7 linked regions of the Homo sapiens genome follow. The protein of the gene in region 7 interacts with the protein of the main gene of each other region in a biochemical or structural test. Each region holds a gene or a part of one and is shown on either strand. Other genes may lie near its edges.

Evidence for each region.
Region 1: the proteins of PBK (region 7) and GRIP1 interact in a test that uses a peptide from one of them, tested with the Homo sapiens proteins (one large-scale study listed by IntAct).
Region 2: the proteins of PBK (region 7) and CYTIP interact in a test that uses a peptide from one of them, tested with the Homo sapiens proteins (one large-scale study listed by IntAct).
Region 3: the proteins of PBK (region 7) and PDLIM4 interact in a test that uses a peptide from one of them, tested with the Homo sapiens proteins (one large-scale study listed by IntAct).
Region 4: the proteins of PBK (region 7) and CNKSR1 interact in a test that uses a peptide from one of them, tested with the Homo sapiens proteins (one large-scale study listed by IntAct).
Region 5: the proteins of PBK (region 7) and PDZD8 interact in a test that uses a peptide from one of them, tested with the Homo sapiens proteins (one large-scale study listed by IntAct).
Region 6: the proteins of PBK (region 7) and PARD3 interact in a test that uses a peptide from one of them, tested with the Homo sapiens proteins (one large-scale study listed by IntAct).

What each region holds. Positions count from the first base shown.
Region 1 is NC_000012.12:66,392,577-66,396,076, forward strand, and holds part of GRIP1 (glutamate receptor-interacting protein 1), read right to left. Parts: intron 1,777-3,500; coding exon 1,632-1,776; intron 241-1,631; coding exon 101-240; intron 1-100. UniProt on the Homo sapiens protein: May play a role as a localized scaffold for the assembly of a multiprotein signaling complex and as mediator of the trafficking of its binding partners at specific subcellular location in neurons.
Region 2 is NC_000002.12:157,434,090-157,437,589, forward strand, and holds part of CYTIP (cytohesin-interacting protein), read right to left. Parts: intron 659-3,500; coding exon 609-658; intron 336-608; coding exon 281-335; intron 1-280. UniProt on the Homo sapiens protein: By its binding to cytohesin-1 (CYTH1), it modifies activation of ARFs by CYTH1 and its precise function may be to sequester CYTH1 in the cytoplasm.
Region 3 is NC_000005.10:132,270,825-132,273,954, forward strand, and holds the end of PDLIM4 (PDZ and LIM domain protein 4), read left to right. Parts: intron 1-90; coding exon 91-269; intron 270-478; coding exon 479-642; coding exon of another isoform or gene 643-966; coding exon 967-1,084; intron 1,085-1,200; coding exon 1,201-1,405; 3' UTR 1,406-2,630; downstream 2,631-3,130.
Region 4 is NC_000001.11:26,183,991-26,187,490, forward strand, and holds part of CNKSR1 (connector enhancer of kinase suppressor of ras 1), read left to right. Parts: intron 1-80; coding exon 81-151; intron 152-223; coding exon 224-297; intron 298-410; coding exon 411-517; intron 518-594; coding exon 595-622; intron 623-1,023; coding exon 1,024-1,196; intron 1,197-3,177; coding exon 3,178-3,251; intron 3,252-3,420; coding exon 3,421-3,492; intron 3,493-3,500. UniProt on the Homo sapiens protein: May function as an adapter protein or regulator of Ras signaling pathways.
Region 5 is NC_000010.11:117,276,774-117,279,107, reverse strand, and holds the end of PDZD8 (PDZ domain-containing protein 8), read left to right. Parts: 3' UTR 1-1,834; downstream 1,835-2,334. Other genes in the region: SLC18A2 (synaptic vesicular amine transporter), read right to left, coding at 1,842-1,946. UniProt on the Homo sapiens protein: Molecular tethering protein that connects endoplasmic reticulum and mitochondria membranes. PDZD8-dependent endoplasmic reticulum-mitochondria membrane tethering is essential for endoplasmic reticulum-mitochondria Ca(2+) transfer.
Region 6 is NC_000010.11:34,378,297-34,381,796, forward strand, and holds part of PARD3 (partitioning defective 3 homolog), read right to left. Parts: intron 1-3,500. UniProt on the Homo sapiens protein: Adapter protein involved in asymmetrical cell division and cell polarization processes. Seems to play a central role in the formation of epithelial tight junctions. Targets the phosphatase PTEN to cell junctions.
Region 7 is NC_000008.11:27,817,318-27,820,817, forward strand, and holds part of PBK (lymphokine-activated killer T-cell-originated protein kinase), read right to left. Parts: intron 3,378-3,500; coding exon 3,248-3,377; intron 2,344-3,247; exon of another isoform or gene 1-2,343. UniProt on the Homo sapiens protein: Phosphorylates MAP kinase p38. Seems to be active only in mitosis. May also play a role in the activation of lymphoid cells.

The sequences.
Region 1 (3,500 bases), on a different chromosome or scaffold from region 7:
AGATTTGTTTCCCTAGAATTACACACAGACACTAGCACATTCTTTCAAGGAAGAAAATGCACTGGAAATCCTTAATTGTGGCTTTCAATTCACTACTCACCATCTGTCTGTTTCTTAATTTTCAAGGTGACAGTCTCTCCTGCCATCTGTAACAAATGGATGGCTTCACTCAGAGGCTTCCCTTTCAAGCTGCTGCTATTGATGGCTAGGATTCGGTCTCCTATGTGGATTGCGCCAGTTCTGAAAAGCCAAATAGTAATAGGAGAGGTAGAAATAATCCCTGTATGGTACTGAATATAAATTCCCTGACATACCTTATACATTCATCATAATAAAGACTTGGTAAGGATCTCCAGAAGTCCCTTCTTGCTTTCTCCTGGGCAATGTTATAAGATAACTGCATCTGTTGTGGATTACTTTTTAGTTTCCAATAAAATTTTAAAAATTGTTTTAATTAGTTATTAAAATGAACTGTGTTTTTTAATTCCAAGAAAGCTGAGTCATTGGTTAAGCACCCTAAAAATCCCAAGAAAATGAACAATGTTGAATGACAAATGTAGTGGATAGCATGGAGCATCCTTTCTTTCTACAGATTTTTTTTTTTTTTTTTTTTTTTTTTTGAGACAGAGCCTCACTGTGTCACCCAGGCTGGAGTCCAGTGGCACGATCTTGGCTCACTGCAACCTCCGCATCCCGGGTTCAAGCAATTCTCCAGCCTCAGCCTCCCAAGTAGCTGGGATTACAGGCAAGCACCACCATCCCCAGCTAATTTTTCTATTTTTAGTAGAGATGAGGTTTCCCCATTGGCCAGGCTGGTCTTGAACTGACCTCGTGATCCATCTACCTCGGCCTCCCAAAGTTCTGGGATTACAGGTGTGAGCCACCGCACCTGGCCTGTATGAGCTAATTTCTAAGGTACACTGCAGCTCCAACATTTTGCAATGCTGTGTCTCTATTTTGCTAGCCACTGTTTTCAACTGTTAGCAGGAACAATGCATTTGTGTATTCCTGAGCTAGGTTACTGGAGGGCAGATTTGCTTATAGGGTTTGTTATATGTCCAACAACACATCTCAGAAAGAAATGCAGTTTAGCGGAGGGTGGGGAGTGGGTGTGTGTGTACATCATTGCCAAAGGAAAAAATGGACATTCCAGCTTTTAAGACATTATTAAAATGGGTTATACACTTTGTTTCCCATAATCCTTGAAGATGATGTCTGTATCATCCTTTTCTGAAAACACAGCAGCTAAGTGTGGCACCTGTCAGGTAACAGAGGCTCAGCAAGTGTTTGCTGAATGAAATTGGACAAGCTGTTCAACCTCCCTGAACTTTAGTTTCCTCCTCTCAAAATGGACACAATACAAATCCGCCTTCAGTCAATTGTGGTCAGCTTATACATTTCAGAGAGTAGTATCAATGCTAAGCCCAAGACGTCTTTTACTGCCTGTAAGATGCCCCTCAGAGTCAAGTCGGAACTCTGCCTGAGAGTTCTCAGGCTCTAAGATCAATCCTTTGTGCAGATTTTTAAAAGCCAACAGATAACCACAGAGAGAGGAGCATGTTTTTATGTGGTTGTGAGGAAGGAAGCCCGTCTCAGACACAGGTAATTATAACAGTTACTTCAAATTTTACCTTTCAGCTAATCCCCCTTTAGTGAGGCTTGAAATGATTATAGGATCAAACGGCTCTTCAGTTCCTGAAATTGTGATGCCAAGGGGCCCCCCGTAGCGTTTAAGCTCCACGGTGTAAATAATTGCTCCGGAACTTTCTTGCTCATCTGTAATAAATGCCAAGGAATCATAATTGATTTCTTTGGAAAAAGCAAAAGAGTAAGATGCATAGATTCATACATAAAAGAATTCAAAACATCCTCGTCAAAGTATCATGTCACAGAAAATAATTATTTTGGGAAGTAGCATTTCCTTAGTAGGATCTTACATTCAAATACAGGGATATAATCATTGTCAGTGCCAGGGGAGAGGAACACTGCCTAATGACTTATGTTTTAAATGTGTGAGATCCGCCCAGCTGGGGCTGCAGGACCTTTCAACTGTGTCCATGTCTAGGACAGTGCTTACCTAGCATTTAGTAAGTATGCAGTAAATATCTGTGAAATAAACATATGGCTGAGGAGGCATTATAATATGAGAGGAGAGAGTCACTCAGTAACAAAGAAGACAGACATTGGGTCACGCTGTTTCCGTTTTAAGCTTTACATGCATGCTAACTTTTGATATAGAAAAGTGGATTTTGCGAAGGGTTGGAACAAATAACATATATATGGTTAAGTGGAACTTAGATAAGTAAACTTGAAGACAACAGCAAGAAATCTAGAATCTCTTAGATATCATTCCACTGACTGTCTTCTAATGTGAGTCCTATCAGTGAATTACGGATATTAAAGTGGAGGTTTGAATGATCATCTCTCCTCTTTCAATGGAGTAACAGCTGTTGTAAGCTATGTTTCAACAGCATAGACCAGCCTGCCACACTGTCATAAACTAATTTTGGCTATTCAACATTATTATAGTTGAAGACACTTGTGAATGTGCTCTGCCTAAAGCACTGGCCAGAAAGATATCATGGGCCGCCTTCAACGTGATGGGTATTGTGATGGTGTCAGAGTTGCAAATAAGAAGTCTCAGAATTCAAAGGTTTTATTTGCTTCTGACATGCTTAAAGTTCTTGGGCACTTCTTGTTTTATTCCTTGGGCCTGGGAGCTGTGAATGGTTAAGGAACTGTTTCATTTCTGCAACTAAGGATAAAATGAAATGGTTCAGTGGCTACTTTAGCAAAATAGTCAGCTTTTACAGTCAGACTACATCCTAGTGAAGCATTAACATGGCCACATTTTTGCAGTGAGCAGCTGTTCGTTTACGATATGAAATCCTAAAATAAGGAGGAAAACCAAAGCTTGAGTTAACAATTCAATTATTTGTGTTTGCAGTGAAGAATTATGATGAATATAAAATGAAAGGTCTATCAAGTCATTTGGGAAGCAATGTGTCCTCTCTCGCCAGCACTTACTTCACTTCTGGCCATAGATTGGGAGTTTTGAATGCAGCCATTACCTCCACTTTCTGAGTGCTCTACTCAACGTATTTACTCCACACATTCAGAACTAAAGACCATCCACCACACACTGCAATGCTTAAGTCAACATTTTAGGGCACAAAATCTTCAACATTGGGCTCAAATTTACATTAGCAGCTGAGAAGCTCCCATATCAAGCCTAAAACAGCTCTGTTTGCTGGTTCACAAGTTTCTTCTGGGCTGATGCTGAAGTTGTGGCCAATAGGCTGGTGATGATCTGCTAAGGGCTCCAGAGAGAAACATCAAGATAGAGGGTAACCAAATAATCAGCAGAGGTCAAAAGTCTAAATTTTCCTACAGTACGATATTTTGTCACCTTTCAGAGCTGGCTTTGACCTAAATGAACAGAGTACTATTGGATAGATTACATGTACTTTGCAGCCCTCATCATCAACAATATCCTGGAT
Region 2 (3,500 bases), on a different chromosome or scaffold from region 7:
ATACCAACCTAGCTGATCAGTCTGGGACTTAAGGGAAGACTGAAGCAACTAAGCACAAACTGCTGAGCATATCGCAGAGGTTTTGTTATCATCTTCAATGTTTTCTTTCCTTAATAGTACTCAACACACTGAAAAACTACCCCCAAACAGCCACACACTGAATAAAAGTCATAGGCTCCATCATTCTCTAATCCTAACTTCATTTTTTCTTTGCACATAACATGACACTACCGGTGCCACTTTCTTCCTTGGAAGTCTAGAAAATGTGAAAATTGCCCACCTGAATTTCAAATCCAAATGTTTCATTATCCTGCTTCTCCACAGTAACAAGCTTTCTGTAATAAAAATGTTTAAAAAAGAAACTGCATGAAAATTAAAGTATCACATTTGGCACAGATCTATCATTAAAAATAACTGTCACAATTAAAAATAACTGACATTTATGTAAATTGTAGTATGTAAGATTCTGTGTGTGTGTCTGTGTGTGTGCGTCTGTGTGTGTGCGTAGAGAGAGAGAGAGAGAGAGAGGAAGAGAGAGGAAAAAACAGTCTGGAGAGCTATGTTCCTAAATATTTTGGGAGAGACAAAAAATAATTCAATCTCTTTACCTTTGAGACCAGGAAAAGTCACTTAAAGAACTTGATCTGGTCAAAGCAAGCTGAAAAACACAAAAGACATATAGTTATCCCAGGGTCTTCAAGATACACTGTAAAATGTTCTAAATCTCTCTCTCTCTCTCTCTCTCTCTCTCTCTCTCTCTCACACACACACACACACACACACACACACACACACACACACACACACACAACCTGTTCTTTACCACCTTCTTTGGCCCAGCTCCTGGGAAATTGTTGCATAAAGGCAGCCATTTCCATTCTCTACATTCTCTAGTGATAGCAGAGGAGAGTAGGGAGACAGGATTCTAGGCATTCCAGTTAAAAGATTGAAAGAGGTTTAGATAGTAATACAATGTGGCAAAAGAGTTAAAATAATGTGGCAAAACTCCAAAGCTTCCAAAGAGAACTTCCTCTCTGGTCTGTATTTAAAACAGCCTCTGAAAGATTAACCATAGCAATTTGTAATCACACTGAAATCCAAAGAAAAATAGCATACTTAGAATGGCATATGAAACCCAAATACTTTATAGTTTTTGGAGATGATGATGAAATGACAGTGTTTACTATAATAATTCAATACGTTACTGTTTTTAGTAGGATAAAATAATCTCTAAACAACCAACTCACACACACAATTCAGGTAAAACCAGGAACTCAAAACCTCATTTCTGCTTATGATTTATTTTTGTAATAGTTTTGGAAGACTAACGTGAAATTTCCAGCCAAGAAAGGAAAGAAACCTCAGAATAGTATCAATGGTATAAATAATATCACCTTCATTCCTCTGCACTTTTGGAAAAGATCATATAAACATAAGCTTTCAGGACACATTCTACCACTGTAAACAGAAGCAGCATCAACAAAAGGTGACAACTTATTTTTTAGGAAAATTGCAGCAGGTTTTTGTGTTTTTTTGGTCGGTTTGTTTCTTTGTTCAGGAAATGTTTATTAGCCCTATTCTCAAATGTTGCTTCAAGGGCCCAAAACATAAGCTACTAGCTAACCCATGGTTTTTAATTGTCAACCTGAAATGGTTGTCATATATAAATGAACACATAAAATATCAAGAGATCAATGCATAGTCAGTCCAGACAAAGCAAAATAAAATAAGTAAAGGATGAAAACTAGAAGGGGGAAAATATGTAGGAGATATTAATGCTTATGTGACAAGTTACACAAATGAAATGCTTATTAAGACATTCATTAGGAGTGAAGCCTACATCACTGTAGGAATTTTGAATTACCAGGTACCAAATGCCAGCATTTTCACAAATTTCCTGGAATGGACCAGTGTTAAGAATTCAGCCACCAGTCCATAAACTTAACGTAATGGAGAGGTGGTCTCTTCTTACCAATTTGCTGTAAATTAATTATATTTTCCTCTTTTGTTAGTTCTGGGCTTCAACTCACTTATATCGCAATGGAGACTGAAATAAATTGCTCAGACCCAAAAAGATTCTCTAGTCTTGCTAAAAAGTATCTCTTTTCAATTTATAAGCACTAACTGTGGAATGCCTACAAGGATTGGTATGGTTTGTTGTAACCTGATTTTGTACCTCGTATGTACCGTTACCAAGGATAGGGACTATTCATCTATGTTAGTGGGCTTCCTTGCAGAAGAGAGCCACAAACTTGATATTTCCAAGCATTCTCAGTCTCTCCCTTATATTGTACTCATATTTTCTTAATCTATTTTTATTATCTTCAGCTGCTTGTTTTCCGCCCTTAAGCCAAATTACGTAATGATAACTAGGGCTTTTTTATTCTTTTTATAAAAGTTTCTTATACCTCTATAAATAAGGGCTTATATTTTTAAGGTATTACTCTTGCTATCAGTATTCATCATATTATTCATATATCCATATAGAGAGAGCTATATATATATGTATACATATATGTATATATTTATATGAAATGCATACTGGATCAAATACTTCACATCTGTACATAATCATCTGTGTGATTTGGACCTCTTGGGGAATGTTATTTGTTTTACTTTCTGCCCCAATGCCCAACACAGGGCCTGGAATAGAATGGAAACTTAAAAATGGAGAAATAGATAAAAATAAATAAACTACTAAACGAAAATGGAAGCAACTGAGATGGTTGAAGAGCCACATTAAATATTCACGTTCAGGAGAAATATGTAAAGATAGTCTTCAACATTGTCCTTTATTAAATTCAATATCATAGGAAAAACTCAAGGATAATCACTAAAATACATAAAGTAAAATTTAAAAATCTTAAATATGTAGCAAGATTTAAAAATGAAAGAAAACAGACAACTGTATATCCATATGCAGAAGAAAGAAACTAGACCATACCTCTCACTCTATACAGAAATCAACTGAAAATAAGTAAATGGATCAAAACCTTCATGTAAAACCTGAGACAATAAAACTACTGGAATAAAACATAGGGGAAAGGCTTTAGCATATTGGATTGGGAAAAAATTTTATGAATAAGACCTTCAAAAAACAGGCAACAAAAGCAAAAATAAACTAATGGGGTTATATTAAACTAAAAAGATTCTGCACAGCAAACAATTAACAGAGTGAAAAGACTACCTGTGGAATGGAAGGAAATATTTGCAAACTACTCATTTATATATCCAGAATATATAATGAACTAAAATACCTCAACAGAAAAAAAAAAATTTAAAAATGGGCAAATGATCTGAACAGACGTTCCTCAAAGGAAGCTATACAAGACTGGGCATGGTGGCTCACACCTGTAATCCCAGCACTTTGGGAGGCCAAGGAGGGTGGATCAACTGAGCTCAGGAGTTCAAGATCAGCCTGGCCAACATGGTAAAACCCCGTCTCTACAAAAATACAAAAATTAGCCAGGCATGATGGCAGGTGCCTGTAATCCCAGATA
Region 3 (3,130 bases), on a different chromosome or scaffold from region 7:
CTGGCACAGCACAGCAGGGTGGGGGTGGGGTGAACAAGGAATGGCTGGAGGCCAGAGGGTCTCCCAGTGCCTTAGGCCTCTCTCTAATAGGACGGCAGCCCAACAACCAGCAGGCGGCCCTCAGGCACCGGGACTGGGCCAGAAGATGGCAGACCAAGCCTGGGATCTCCATATGGACAACCCCCTCGCTTTCCAGTCCCTCACAATGGCAGCAGCGAGGCCACCCTGCCAGCCCAGATGAGCACCCTGCATGTGTCTCCACCCCCCAGGTAGCACAGAGATGCCTTCGGTGCCATGCCCAGAACCCATCTTAACCCTTGATCCCTCAAATCTCACCCAGTCCCACTCTGACCCCTGACACTTGATCCTTGGGTCTTAGCTGGTTGCATTCTGACTCATAAGCCTTACCAGACCCCAAGTCCACAGGGTGAAGGCTGGAACTGCATCCCTTCCTCCTCTATTTCTTTCTCCCTCCCAGCGCTGACCCAGCCAGAGGCCTCCCGCGGAGCCGGGACTGCAGAGTCGACCTGGGCTCCGAGGTGTACAGGATGCTGCGGGAGCCAGCCGAGCCCGTGGCCGCGGAGCCCAAGCAGTCAGGCTCCTTCCGCTACTTGCAGGGCATGCTAGAGGCCGGCGAGGGCGGTAAGACGCCTGCCACCTGTCCCCATCTGCCTTCCCACTCCCTGCAGTGCCCAGGTTGCCCCCTAGCGACCCCACGTCCCGCCTCGCAGTCACCTGCCCTCTTCGGTCTCTGCGGCCCGGTCCCACGCCCTTGCTACAACCTTGCTACGCCCTGGCTTCCCGATTCCCTCTCCACCCCCTGTCGCTGCCCCTCACCCCACGCCCGCCAAACCCGTTCCCCAGTCTCGGGTGCCGATGGCCCGTCTGGCGCCCAACCAAACACCCCGCAGAAATGGAGTTCTGACCTCCTCACCCCGTTCATGCCACCTACGCTCCGGGTTTCAGGGGATTGGCCCGGGCCTGGCGGCCCCCGGAACCTCAAGCCCACGGCCAGCAAGCTGGGCGCTCCGCTGAGCGGCCTGCAGGGGCTGCCCGAGTGCACGCGCTGCGGCCACGGCATCGTGTGAGTAACCGCCCCCGCTGCCCCTCCCGGACCCTAGCCTTCCAGGGCCCTGGATGCGGGCGCAGTCGTGAACCCATCAGTCACTCGACGCTGTCCTGTCTCGTTCCCCCCATCAGGGGCACCATCGTCAAGGCACGGGACAAGCTCTACCATCCCGAGTGCTTCATGTGCAGTGACTGCGGCCTGAACCTCAAGCAGCGTGGTTACTTCTTTCTGGACGAGCGGCTCTACTGTGAGAGCCACGCCAAGGCGCGCGTGAAGCCGCCCGAGGGCTACGACGTGGTGGCGGTGTACCCCAATGCCAAGGTGGAACTCGTCTGAGCTGGGACCCTGCTCCCACGCCTGCTTCTTAAGGTCCCTGCTCGGCCGGTGTAAATATGTTTCACCCTGTCCCTCTAATAAAGCTCCTCTGCTCCACCTTGAACCTGTCACCTGGCCTGCCACCCTCCTGCGCAGGCCATGCATGGCTCCCGAGTACAGTAGTATCTGCTTAGGTGCCAGGCATGTCCTAGGCTCTGGGTGCAGTAGTGAGCAGGACGGGTACCATGCTGCCCTGAAGGGGGCCACAGCCTGGGTGGAAGGCAGACCTGAATCACAACGGGCCAGCTCTAGTAATACGAAGGTGAGGTCTGGGATGCTGCGTGCGGCGCGACGACAGGAGGTATGACCTGGGTGGGGTCAGGGAAAGTCTTAGCTGAGAACTAAGAGATGAGGGAGGCACAAACTCTGCACGGGGGAACTGTGTGTGCAAAGGTGAGCTGGGGGCGAGAAAGGCCTCTGTGGCCGTCATCGGCACTAGCGGGTTGGGGGTGGTGGTGGGGTGCTGGCAGCCTCAGGAGCGATCGCTCCCCTGGAGAGGGTGATTGAGTGTGGAGATCACCGGGGCCGCCGCGGGCCGTCTGCACTTCTGTTCCAGGTTTTTCTGGCATTTTCTGTTCCAGGTTTCTTCCACCCACGAGCACTTTATTCTCCTCCGAGACCCCCTTTTCTTCCCCTTCCTCTCTCCCCCACCAGGGGGCGCGCTTAAATTTCCAGACAGAGACCAGAAGGAAGGTTTAGAAAGAAAAGAACACTTGCCCAGGGCAGCTTTGCCCTCCAAGAGGCTCCCTCCTGTCTCTAAGTCAATTCCACCCCTCCTCGAAGTCCCGGCTTCCACCCCTCTCCTCAGAGTCCCGGCGTTTACCTCGTGGTGTGTTTGCCTTGGGCCTTTCATGCCCCGGCTGCACACATCGTCTGTGAATTGTGGCTGTTCACTCCCGAGGATGTGTCCTAGACTCCGGGTCGCGTGGATCTACCCTCTAGTTTACTTGCTCGGGAGAAGAAACTGACTCGTTTTATTTAGTGCCTATTTAGCGAGCCCAGAGTAACGTACATTTGTGCTGTTTTCAATTTTGTGCTATCGCAAATCACAAAAAAACTGTTATCAATTCACATTCATCATCAGCACGAGACCCATTTCCTTGTGCTCCTGCCAGCTCAGGATATTATGTTTCTTTTTTCATTTTTGCCAGTCTGTTAAGTAAAATGTCATATGCGTTTGTTTTAATTTGCATTTCTCTGATTACCAGTGATGAACATTCAGTTTTTGAGCATTTATGGTGTGTTTGCTGGGTGCCTAGCACTAAGGGAACAGAGTGGTCCTCACTCTCAAAAGAGCAGTTCTTGTGTAAGTTACCCCAAACCCTTCATGATTTTTTTCCAAGGCTTATTTAACTTCTTCTTAATGATTGGTAGGAACTTTTCCTAATTTTGTACGAATCTTTGTTACTGGATTCTGGTCATCTGATCTATTTCCCTGTTAATGTATAATTACTACTGTGTTGGAGTTTAATAGCCAATCTCTCCTCCTTGTTGGTCATTTACAAACCTGTCAAAGCTATTCCTCTACATTTCCAGTTGTCAGAAGTTGAGACTGCATGCCTCAGGCTCTGGAAAAGCAAACCTCTGAACTGTGACCAGGTTGCCCTGAATCTAGGGACTCACTTGGGAAGAACTGGCATTAGTCTTTTCCTCCAGAGAGGACTGTGATCTGCACTTCCTGTGCAT
Region 4 (3,500 bases), on a different chromosome or scaffold from region 7:
TGCTGCTCCCCTACCCCTGTTGCCCCCCAACCTGCTTTCAGACCCCTGTCTCCATTGCTTTGTTCCTGGTTGTTCCCCAGACGCCCCCTCAGGTCCTGGACTCCCCGCACCAGAGGAGCCCATCACTGTCTCTGGCCCCACTGTCTCCCAGGTAACAGGCTCTGTCCAGGTGTGTCTTGGTGGGGAGACCGTGGGCTCATCTCATCCCCCTTGCCCTCCCCAGGGCCCCATCTGAAGACGTCTTTGCCTTTGACCTGTCTTCAAACCCCAGTCCCGGACCCAGCCCTGCCTGGACAGGTAGTCTCAAAGCTCCATGGATGCCCCGGACACGGCATCTGGGCACCCAGTTCTGACCCCAAGCCTGGGACTGGGCTCATAGACTTTCCCTCTCTCTCCTCCCTCCCTGACAGACTCTGCCTCCCTTGGCCCTGAGCCCCTGCCCATCCCCCCGGAACCCCCAGCCATACTCCCAGCAGGGGTAGCAGGGACTCCAGGGCTCCCTGAATCCCCTGACAAGGTAAGCTCAGGGGCTTAGCAAGGGGGTGGGTGGGTCTGGACCTAGATCCTTCTCTCACCCTTCTGCTGTCCTTTCAGAGTCCTGTTGGTCGGAAGAAATCAAAAGGTATGAGGTGCGCTGGACTAGGTGGGGGTTCCCCTGTTTGAGGAGCTGTTAAAAATCTTTACATGCTGGGCAAGACCACCCCCATCCTTCCCACACAGCCTCTCCTGGAAACAGCTCTGTTTCTAGGGTCAGACAGAGCTGTGCTCCCAGTCTGGGCCTCTCACCAGACTAGAGGCTAACCTGTTTGCTGTGACTGAGCAAACAGGTTAGCCTCTAGTCTTCAGTTTGCTCATCTCTAAAATAAGAAGGGTCATCCCACCTCAGAGATGACACATGTAGCATTCTGAGCAGAGTGTGGGTTCAGAGATCTCACTTGGGGATGCTTGTGGAAGGCAGGGAGTAGGTTTAGCGGGGGCACCTTGCCAGCCCCTCACTGCCCAGCTTGTGCTGTGCTGCTACAGGCCTGGCGACCCGGCTGAGCCGCCGGCGGGTGTCATGCCGTGAGCTGGGCCGGCCGGACTGTGACGGCTGGCTCCTGTTGCGAAAGGCACCGGGCGGCTTCATGGGCCCGCGCTGGCGCCGCCGCTGGTTTGTGCTCAAGGGACACACGCTCTACTGGTACCGCCAGCCCCAGGTAAGACCCCATACACAAAAACAGGTAGGCAAGTGAGTCACTTCCAGGCCTCGATTCTCATCTCTATTCTATCATCCACTCTTATTCCTGGTCCAAGGCTTTGATGTCCCCATCTGTAAAATGGGGACTTTATTCAGAGAGAAATGAGTTAATATATGTATAAAAGCAGTTTGGAAAAGGTATCATAGGAGGTATAGAGAAAAATCTTTTTTTTTTTTTTTTTGGAGACAAAGTCTCACTCTGTTGCCCAGGCCGGAGTGCAGTGGCATCATCTCGGCTCACTGCAAGCTCTACCTTCCGGGTTCACGCCATTCTCCTGCCTCAGCCTCCCGAGCAGCTGGAACTACAGGCGCCCGCCACAACGCCCAGCATATTTTTTGTGTTTTTAGTAGAGACAGGGTTTCACCGTGTTAGCCAGGATGGTCTCGATCTCCTGACCTCGTGATCCACCTGCCTCGGCCTCCCAAAGTGCTGGGATTACAGGCGTGAGCCACCACACCCGGCCCTGAAAAATCTGGGCAACATAGCAAGATGGAGTCTTGCTATGTTGCCCAGCCTTGTCTCAAACTCCTGGGCTCAAGCGTTCTGCCTGCTTCAGCCCGCCAGAATGCTGGGATTATAGGCGTGAGCCACCACATCTGGCCGAAAAATCACGTCTATTCTGCCCACTTCTCCTTATCCTTCTGATATTCTGTCCATCCGAATGATGGGCCATTCATTTACTCATTTATTCATTCAGGATTCAGGTGCCTACTGTGAACCCAGCTCTAGGCTGGGCACTATGGACACAGAGAAGAATTGGATGATTTTTGCTTCTCCAGAACTTAGAGGCTAGTAGGGGAGAGGGATGAATACACACTCAAGGACAATGTAGGGACCGTGTGCTAAGATAAAGGGAAAGCCCAAGGGATATGTGGGAGCACAGCAGAGGTGTCCAGTCCATCCTGAGGAGTCCAGATGCCCCCTGACAATGCAATACCTGGCAGTTAGTTGCATGGGAAGGGGAAAGAAAACCAGGAAGAGAAAGCAGCATTCAGAAAGCTCAGGGGTGTGAAGCAGTTTGGTTTGTGTCTACTGAAGGAACAAATGCATGAGCAAGCTCTTCTTGTTTGGTTTTTTGGTTTTTGTTTTTGAGACAGAGTCTTGCTTTGTCACCCAGGCTGGAGGGCAGTGGCATGATCTCAGCTCACTACAGCCTCAGCCTCCCAGGTTCAAGCGATCCTCCTGCCTCAGCCTCCTGAGTAGCTGGGACTACAGGCACATGCCACCATGCCTAGCTAAGTTTTTTGTTTGTTTTGTTTTGTTTGAGACGCAGTCTCGCTCTGTTGCCCAGGCTGGAGTGCAGTGGCGCAATCGCAGCTCATGGCAACCTTTTCCTCCCAGGTTCGAGCAATTCTCCTACTTCAGCCTCCCGAGTAGCTGGGATTACAGGCACCTGCCACCATGCCTGGCTAATTTTTTGTATTTTTAGTAGAGATGGGGTTTCACCATGTTGGCCAGGCTGGTCTCGAACTCCTGACCTCATGATCTGCCCGCCTCAGCCTCCCAAAGTGCTGGGATTACAGGTGTGAGCCACCACACCCGACCTAAGTTTTTAATTTTTTGTAGAAATGGGCTTTTTTCCCAGTCTGGTCTCAAACTCCTAGGCTCAAATGGTCCTCCTGCCTTGGCCTCCCAAAGTGCTGGGATTACAGGCATGAGCCACCATGCCCGGCCTTCAGGCTCCTCTTTTTTTTTTTTTTGGCTGTTTCTCTGATATCTTTGGCTCCCCTTTCCTGGCTTAGAGGCATCCTTTGGCCACATCTCCTACCCTGACCCCAGATTCCAGCCCTGAGCTCCAGAAACAGAGAGACTTGTTAGAGAGCCCAGGAGATGCCTTCTCCTCTCCACAACTCTCAGGAGCCCGAGGGGTAACTAGGAGCTGACTGGGCCTTGAGGGTATTGGGGTTCCAACCTGACCCTCATGCTGTGATCCCCCCAGGATGAGAAGGCTGAGGGCCTCATCAATGTCTCCAACTATAGTCTGGAAAGTGGACATGATCAGAAGAAGAAATAGTTAAGTCTTGGGGTGTGATGGGCTGGGGGATGGAGACAGAAAGGGAGAGGAAGGGTGATGGGGTAGCAGTGGGAGGTGTGGCAAGTGGCTGGGGCGCCCAGAATCCAGCCTCTCTGGGCTGTGGGTGGGCACGCCCAGGCTGAGTGATGCTCCTCCACTACCTGGCAGTGTGTTTCAGCTCACCCATGATGTGTACAAACCCTTCATCTTCGCTGCTGATACCCTGACAGATCTGAGCATGTGAGTGC
Region 5 (2,334 bases), on a different chromosome or scaffold from region 7:
ATCTTATCCCGAGGGACCAACAGCAGGCATACCTTTGCCAGGCCTTCTTGCAGAAAGACACAGAGCCGTAAAGGCAAAAATAAAATTGCAATAAAGTATATGGTATTGGGGGCAGGGAGAACCAGAAACCCTCAAAGAGAACCAATTTGTAGCACGTTCTTTTTTAAGGCTCTACCCCTGTAGAAGTAAGAAACTAGCCTGCCTTTTTAGCCATATGAGAGTTTCCTCCAGAGCCATCTTCCAAAGTGGCAGACTTGGCCAAGTTGCCCAATGCCAAATAAGTGAGTTGGAAGTTCGTTTGCTTCAAACACACTGCACTTAGAAACCAGACTTGAAATAATCGAAGCCCCACAGAAAAGCTTCATGAAACGAAGTGTTACTTTCCTAGAGAATAAGAAAGTCACAAGATTGAGGAGTCTGTTCTAAAGTTCTTTGCTCCTTGATGTCGAAGTTAACACAAACACAATCTTAGCTTAACGAAACTAAGTAATTTTTGTTTATGATTATAGAACTGCAGGATTCACAAGTAGTATTAGAGACATTCCACACTGCACACTCCAGTCATATCTCTTAACAAAATGACATAAATTGACAATGTTCACTAACAGTATTTGCTGTTACACTGAAAAGGCACATCAATGTTGTCATGCTTAGAAAAATACACAACACTGCACACTGGATGATATAGTTAGCACATACATTTTTAGATGTTCCATTTTTCTTTTCTGCCTGATCACTATTATTTTTACTTCTTAATATATGATTCAAGACATAATTTCATTCTTCATTTTCATTTAAAATTTGTCTTCACATTGATGTGAACAACTTTCAGGAGTCTAAAAAATAGTAGTTTCAGACAACCTAAAATAAATATATTCCTAGAAAACACTTGGATGACCTGCAAACAGATCAAAGATATAGTCAGATATTAAAGTCAGAGCAGCTGTTTTCAGCTTCTTGTTTCCTTTTCTAAAACTTGAAGTAGATGGCGATTAACCTTATCATGTTTAAACAACCTTGACAGTATAAGGTACATGTACCCTCAATTTTCTTCATCCAGTAAGACAAGTATGCATCTTAAAGGGAAAGCTTTTAGTTCATAACAATATGTTTGGTTGCTTTTCTCTGCTTTCGGAACATTTACTGTTTTTCCTTTATTGGCTTTAGTGTTTGCTGCCAACCAGATAACATGTTAACATATAATTTACAACTCTCTCTAGGTAGGTGATTACATAGAAAACTAATGCCAGCTAAGATTTATGGATTCAAAAGATAACTGACACAAGTTCTTGTCCTCTACACTTGAGAGAACTAGCTGTTTAACGCATAAATATATTGATAGTAACTACAAGTTAAATAACATTCAGTGTCACTATATAACATGCTGTCTTACTTGATTCTGTTTTTCAGACTTCATTCTAGTTTCTCTTTGTTGGAAGAGTCTCAGAGATAATGTGTGCTTTAATTTTAAACACTCATTACCAATATGATTTTTGCCCAAATGTTTGTTAATGTAAGTTAAAAAATTATATTTGGTTTGGATTCAAATATTTATAGATTTACACAATACCTATTTCATCAAAATATATTGTATGATATTTAATAAAATTAAATACATAAAATAAAGTTTCAACACTATTTATACAAACCCCTAGAAAAGCTTCTTTTTCTTTATAAGGCTGTTGGCAATCGACCATAACCATGGAAAGGAAATAATAACCTTTGGTTTTACTCTTTCACCAGGGATGGATGGTATGACTAAGACAGTTCTGGATGAGTTGTGTCACTGGAAACACTGTTTTATACAATTAAACACTTTGATGATTTTTGAGGATCTCATCTCAGTCACTTTCAGATTCTTCATCTTCACCTATCGGATATGACTGGATATTATTCTGAGTGTACATTTTTGTTTTAATAGGGCAGTTGTGATCCATGAGAATAGCCTAAAAGAGAGCAAAGTGCAAGTATATTAACTTCTTGTTTCATAAAGATAAGATGGTTTTAACCTACTGTTTTTAAGGATTATTAGTTTGAAAACTATGTAGTATTACTTGCTATTAACCAGTCATTTGGAGCAATCGCCAGACGCCTGACCTAAAAGACCTGTAGTTCTACACTCTAAAAATTCCAGGCAATTGGAGACAGAAGTGGTCTCTGCAGTATTTTCATTATACCTGTCAGGGGCCATAAGTCCACTCTGGGAACTTATACTCTATGAAGCAAGGGACAGGCAGGTTAGGTTTGTTATACTTAGAATCTTGGAATTGGGGTATGGGGATCCTGGAGGTCACCCAGTCCAACTTCTGTTTACAGACGTCATTGTAGCAACAC
Region 6 (3,500 bases), on a different chromosome or scaffold from region 7:
ACATATCAACAGTTATTAATCTAAGAAGAAACAGCAATCTTCTCAAAGACAGATGAAAGTTAATATGTAAATATGACTGCTAAAAGTTTTTAAATCAATGTAAATCTTTGAATAGGAAATTCACTACATGAAGAAAGAAAAAAACTTCTGTTAAGACCCACAGTACCTCAAAACTCAAGTATTATTGTGCAATAATGACATCCAAATTTTAAGGGTAGGAGGTATGAGCAAGGGAAACAAAAATGTCCAGGGAGATGGAAAAGAACAGTGAAATGAGAGGTATCTCTAGATAGAGGTAATGGAACCTCCCAAAATCATAATTATTCAAAGCAGTTTACTAAGAGGATAAACCATAAACCAAATTATCTTTGCCTAGTTCACTTCTAATTCACCTAAATCTTACCATGTATATTTCCTTCACCACCCCCCACTCCCAAACAAGGCAAATTACTCAGTGAAGACTCCATCTCAGATCATGGCTACCAAATCTGGGGATCATATTATGCTTAAAGGTACTAAATTAATGATGCATTTATAAATTACTCTGATGATTCACAGAATTTAAATTCTCATTTCTTTGGCAGCTTTCTTGACAGACAGTCTTACATGCTCAATACAAAGCAGAAAAGTGTTTATATGTCACTAGAATCAAGACGCAAGAAGCCAACACGTGCCCAGGAAAAACTGGGGAGATAATGATACATTTGTAATGAATCACAACATTTTTACAATAATGATTTCTACCTAAGCTTTTTTAAAAAGTTACTTCTTAAGATATTAGTTTCCATTTCAGTTAAAATATTGTTAAGGCAAATGCTTGCTCATTATGGGAAGAATAAAGAGATCTGTAAAGGTGAAAAATCTAGAAAAGAGCACATTAATCTGATACATCACTCAGTATAAAACTGTAATGAAAAGTATAAAATATAAGTGAACAAAAAAGGGTGAATAAAAATGTAGATTAAAGAAACATTAAAGGAGAAATAAAGAAAACACTCCATAGTTATTCCTGTAGCAAAACCTACCATAGTTATTCTCAACATCAAACAAAGCATTCATTTACTTTAGTCTGAAGTCACTTTAGGGTGCTTGGACTATTAATATTTCTGATGTCTTCCATGCTGAACACCTGAATGGCATACTGTCTATATGAAATGTTTGTTATTGCTCTGGGGAGATTTTTCCATATGTCTCTGCTTTCATGAAACTCTAATGACTTGCAATAACATTTATTAAGAAAGAATTCTTAATTACTCTCCTTTTGCAATACTAACTTTTTTGAACTATGAATGCTGACTGTTGTAGGAACCTCAATACTATTAAAATATCAGCAACAACCCCTAAATCTGTAAGCTAAAAGTTCAGGCAATGACCTTTCAAGGAAAGATAAGTAGATATCAATTTTCATTTAACAAAGCCAACAAAACATTCTGCACTGACTGAAACAGATTACTGACCTTCTCCTCTGACTTTATTAAAAAGCTAATTTCTACAAAAGAGCTGGGTATTTGAGAATACCAAAATGGCAATAAATATTAAGAAATCATAATTATGGAAGCAAGTACACTGAGGCTATTCTGTTGTCATGTTATATAACATAGCTCCAAAATTAGGCCAAAGAATAATTATACTGACATCTTTTTTTGTACTAAGAGTTGATTCCAGTTTTTGAAGAACTGCTGCCACTCAAAGCACATTAGCTCACTTTGAACTGAATCTGAAGTTTAACACTGACACACCCTATGTTTTTAATGTACTTCACTAATAAATGTAATAACTTGTAAGAAAAAAATCTGCTAGCTACAAGGAAAGCCTGTTCAATTCTCCTACATTCATTATTATTAAAATATATGCATTTAGTCCTAATCAAAGATAATCAGCATTCTTCCCCACATTTATAGTAAACATAATTTTTATATAAAATATTTGTAAGTATTGGCAGCATGCACAAGCAGCATGTGCTTTTTGTCATACATTCTCACAGTTGGTAAATTAAAATCAAGATAGATCTATGGGACTCTATATCATTAAGATTACTCAAGGTCTGAAAAACACTTAAAACCATTGTTTCTCCTTTCAGTGATTAAGCATAGTCTTTCTAAATTAGCTTGTGTAAATGCAATCATATTTTTCATTAAATGCTATTAAAATAATATCTGTATTCAAAACAATGGTACCAGTTTTGTAAGTAAAATGTATCAATTTGATTTATTTATCACTTCAGACTTACTATAACATAAAAATTAGATATACTCATTATTTTCCTTTTTTTGGAGAATCTGTATTCTGTTTAATACTTTACCTTTATCTTCTCACTTCAGATTTCCTTTGTATTTCTCATTCTTTCATTAGCAAAACAATGGTACTTTTAATGGCAAATCACCTCATTTAAAAAGTTCATGTTATATCATGATTTGTCAAATATCCTAATTTTTGAAAAACCATAATTAACTAAATGAATATTGCTGTATCAGTGTAAAAAGGAAAAGATATTTATGAACCAGTATCTTTATGACAATGGTGAAGCAAAATACTGTACCTTTGTTTAGAGATATCAAGCAGAATTTTATTTTTTATACGATTCTATTTGTAGTTCTTGATATGTTTTTGGTTAAAAACAAGGGCCTGTCATTTAAGTAGAGCAAAAGGAGGAAAGAGGATGTGATATTTCTCTCATTTAGGAATTGACAGAGCTAAAGGGGTTTCTGTTGATATGACTCTGTGTTTGCAACGAGGCAAGCTGTCAACTCCTGATCATGTCAACCAAGTATTTAGAGCTTAAAAACCAGTAACCAGAAATAAGAAACTTGAGGTTCACATAAAGTTCACTGAAAGAATATGAGTTAGAAAGGAAACAGCAGTCTCAGAGTTTACAACCTTGTAAATGCTACCCCAAATGTAAAGAAGAATGGTCTGAATATCCGGATATGGAAAACATACTAGTAAGAATCTGTGGCCAACAGCCACATGACCTGAGGAAATAATGAACCTCTCTTGGAATCATTTCCATCCAACTATAAGAGTTGATGGTTGAGCCTATAAAAAAAAATATTCTTTATAATAATACCATTTTGAAAGACATGATTTAAAAATATATCAAAATGCTCAGCTAAAATGGATCAGGAACAGTAAAAGTGTATCTTGGTGCCTGGACGAAACATTGGGTGAAAATCATAAAGTCAAGTCCAATAGTTTGCACTCAACTTTGAAGGAGGCAAACTGCAAGAACATGCTCTCTATACAGAGATCCACTGTATACAGGAAGGGTACTAAAATACATAATGGATGGAAGATGTATGAAGAATCGGCAATCGACATCATGACTTCCACATCACCATAAGAAAGAGAAGCAGGCCTGGACATGGTGGCTCACTTCCATAATCCCAGCACTTTGGGAAGCCGAGGTAGAAGGACTACTTGAGGCCAGGAGTTCCAGATCAACCTGGGCAACATGGCAAGACTCCAACACAACAAAAAATTTGTAAATGAGATGGGCATGG
Region 7 (3,500 bases):
AGTTTCACTGAACAGCACTGCTCTAGAAAGTCTTGCTCCGGCTCAGAAATGACACAAGTCATTTCTTCTGGTAGAACCTTTCAGACGACAGTTTGGAAATCTGCATTTAAAATAAGAAAAATATTTTAAAATGTTTATGCCCTTGCAGATTTAATGTGTTAGTATCTTTTATTAGGATTATTAACTGTTTTTGTTACTGCTTTAGTTTTCAAAGTTGCATAGGTTTTAACCCTGTTTTTTTTTTCTATAAACCTAGTTATATCTTGAAACTTTTGCGCAATGAAGTTTTGCAGGAAATAATATATCAGGTTATTATAAAAAAAATGCCTGTACTGCCTAATTACTCAATTACTTCTTTGGACTGTGTTCTTAAGAATGAAACTATAGGGTCAAAGGGCATAAACATTTTTAAAGGTTTTTCTTATTTTAAATACAGCTTTCCAAACTGTCACCTGAAAGGTTCTACCACAAGAAATGACTTGTGTCATTTCTGAGCTTGAGCATTTAACTATCACTGCAAGACTTTCTAGAGCAGTATTGTTCAATGAAACTTTCTATGATGATTAAATCTCCTAAATCTGCATTGTCCAATGTGGTAACCATTAACCACATGTAGCTTCTGAGCACTTGAATTGTGGCTAGGGTGGCTGAGAAAATAATTTCAATGTTTTAATATTAATGTAAATAGCAACATGCAGCTCATAACTACTGTATTGGACAGTACCACTCCAATGCTTTTTCACCCTCCCCATAATGGTGGCCATGTTCCATATAGTGGCTGTTCCATCAGTATAAGTCCTAAAGGGAGAATGACACAGAACAAGGTGCTAATGGCCATGCAGCTTGAGTAATAAGCCTTGGTTGTTGTAAGTCACTGAAGTTTTTGAGGTCTGTGTTACCACAGCAAAACCTATTCTAACCTCAGTAAAACAGCAGTTACAAGTTCTACTTAGTGTATGAGAGGACATGTTAACCTACATTGTTGCTCATACTAGCAATCTTTTTATTTACTAGCAATCTTGTTACTCCTTCAATAATATATTTACAAGTCAGGCACTATTCTAGAGTTGAGGATATTTCAGTGGACAAGATATACAAGGTTCCCTTCTTAGAGCTTACAAGCCTAATGGAGGAATGGAGAAACGTTTAACAGATAATTTACACAGTGTGATGAGTGTTGATAGCAGATTATCTCATTGTTATTTAGCTTTTAAAACATTAGTAAGAACATTACATATATATTTTCCTAATTGCCATTTTTTTCATTTCTCAACAGTCTCTTCATAATAGAGCTTTTATCTGTTTCTCATTGATTACTAATAACTCTTAATGCATTAGAAATATTAAATATCTTATACATTTATCTCAGTTTCTAATGTCTTAAGCTCCCTGCCCCTCTCCAACCCACTGTGATATAGAATTCTTTTTTTTTAAATGGAGGTACCCATGGCTTTTTAATGATGGTTTCTAGCTTTGGTGTCTTCTTTAAAGTCCTCTCCACAGCCAACATTAAAGAACTATTTATCTACAATTTTTTCTACTGTTACTTTTTCCCCCAATCTTCAATATATGGGGATTCAAGTGTAAGGATAGAAAACAGCTGTGTTTTTTTCTAAAATGTCCAGATAACATCATTTACTGACTAAACTACCTCTTTTCTCACTAATACAAAAATGTCACCTTTATCACACAACAAATTCCTCTATTTGGGAACTATTTCCTGACTCTCATGTTCTATTTTTCTGCCTATTTTGGCATGAGTATCATCGCTTTAATTACTGTAGCTTTATAAAACTTTTTATCTGCTCAGGAAGATTCCTCCTCCTTTCATCGAGTTTTCCCAGCCATGTTTGATTGAACATGTATCCTCAAAGAGGAACTTCAGATTAATTCTGACATGTTCTAGAATAGATCACATTAAGATTATGTAGAATTTATAGGCTATCAAATTCATTCATTTCTGCTTTCTGTTCTTAGGGCGTCATTTTTTTCAATTTCAGTTGAATATTCAACTTAACTTCATAAAAGTTAAATAATGAAAATGTTTCCTTTGAGTAGTTTTGAACATATCAAATAGGGTTTGACTTGTTATATTCTTATATTTTCTAAATATTTTATAAATGGAATTTGATTTCTCTTTTTAGCCAAAAATTATTCGGAAGTGTTTTAAATTCCTAAAAAGTTTGGAGTTTTTGTTTCCTATTTTATTACAAATTTCTAGATTTACAGCATTGATGTTAAGGAATATCACCTATTAGACTATTCATACTTTTTATAATTCGAAGTTTTTTTGTGTGATCTAAGAATATGGTCAATTTTAATAAATATTATGGTGCAGAGGTACTTGCCTTACTATTTACTCAGATCTTTAACATCCTTACATTTGTCTGTTTGCTCTATTAAGCATTGAGAAAAATACTTTAAAAACCCTCATTTTTATTATGTTTGACAATTTATCCTTTTACTTTCTAAAGTTCCCATTTTGTAAGTTATTTAGCATAAGGTTTCACAACAGTTCTATTTTTATTAATGATTACAGACATCATTTATTTATAAAGTCTGTCCATTCATTCTGACTCTTGCCTTCAACTCAACTTGTAAACTTTTACTTCAGCTAGAAATTCAGGCATTTATATGTTCTAAACAGCATTTATTAACCATTTGTTTAACTTCTGTTGATATAAAGAGACAAATTTAAGTATTATTTACTAAATAATATGTTGCAAGCAGAGGCTTTCTCTTGAGGCTGGCTCTTGTTTCTCACCAAGAACATATCTTAAATTCCCTGAGAAGCTATGCAATAGAGAAGAAAGGGCAAAGAGCCAAAGACCAGCCTTCATTAGCACCCCTCTTTTCTGCTTCATTCCAGTTTCTTCTACCAGTTTCCTAAATCTTGTCACTTTACTCATGCTAAATAAACCGCTTTACACAACCTTACTAAATTTTACTTTCTATTCCCAGATGCTTTACTGCTTAAAGATCCCAATCCAGTTAGAAATATTTCCCAAAGATAACTCCAGTTAAAATATATACTAATACTACTACTAATAATAATACAGTAATTTATACTGTACATGTGGCAAGGGAGAAGACTGCAGGCTGACTGGGAGAGAGAGAAAAAAAGGGGACTTTTTACCATATACTTTTTAAAAATAGTTTTTGATTTTTGATCCATGTGGACTTACGTATTTAAAAATGTAAACACTGTATTAAAAACAAAATTTTAAAACTTAAGAGTACAACTTACCAGTCATATTTTCATCCAGTGGTAGAGAGACTCCTACATCACAGATTTTAATTGTTTCAAAATCGCCTTTAATTACAACATTTGAAGACTTTATGTCTCCATGAAGCAGTTTCTTTTCTTGGTGCAGATACTAAAATAGTAAAAAATTTAACACATATGTGCAGAAACACAAACTAATAAAAAAATGTGATAACCTCCAAATATAACAACTTGAACTCCCTTCCTAAACTCTAGGTTTACATTTGTCCAGCGT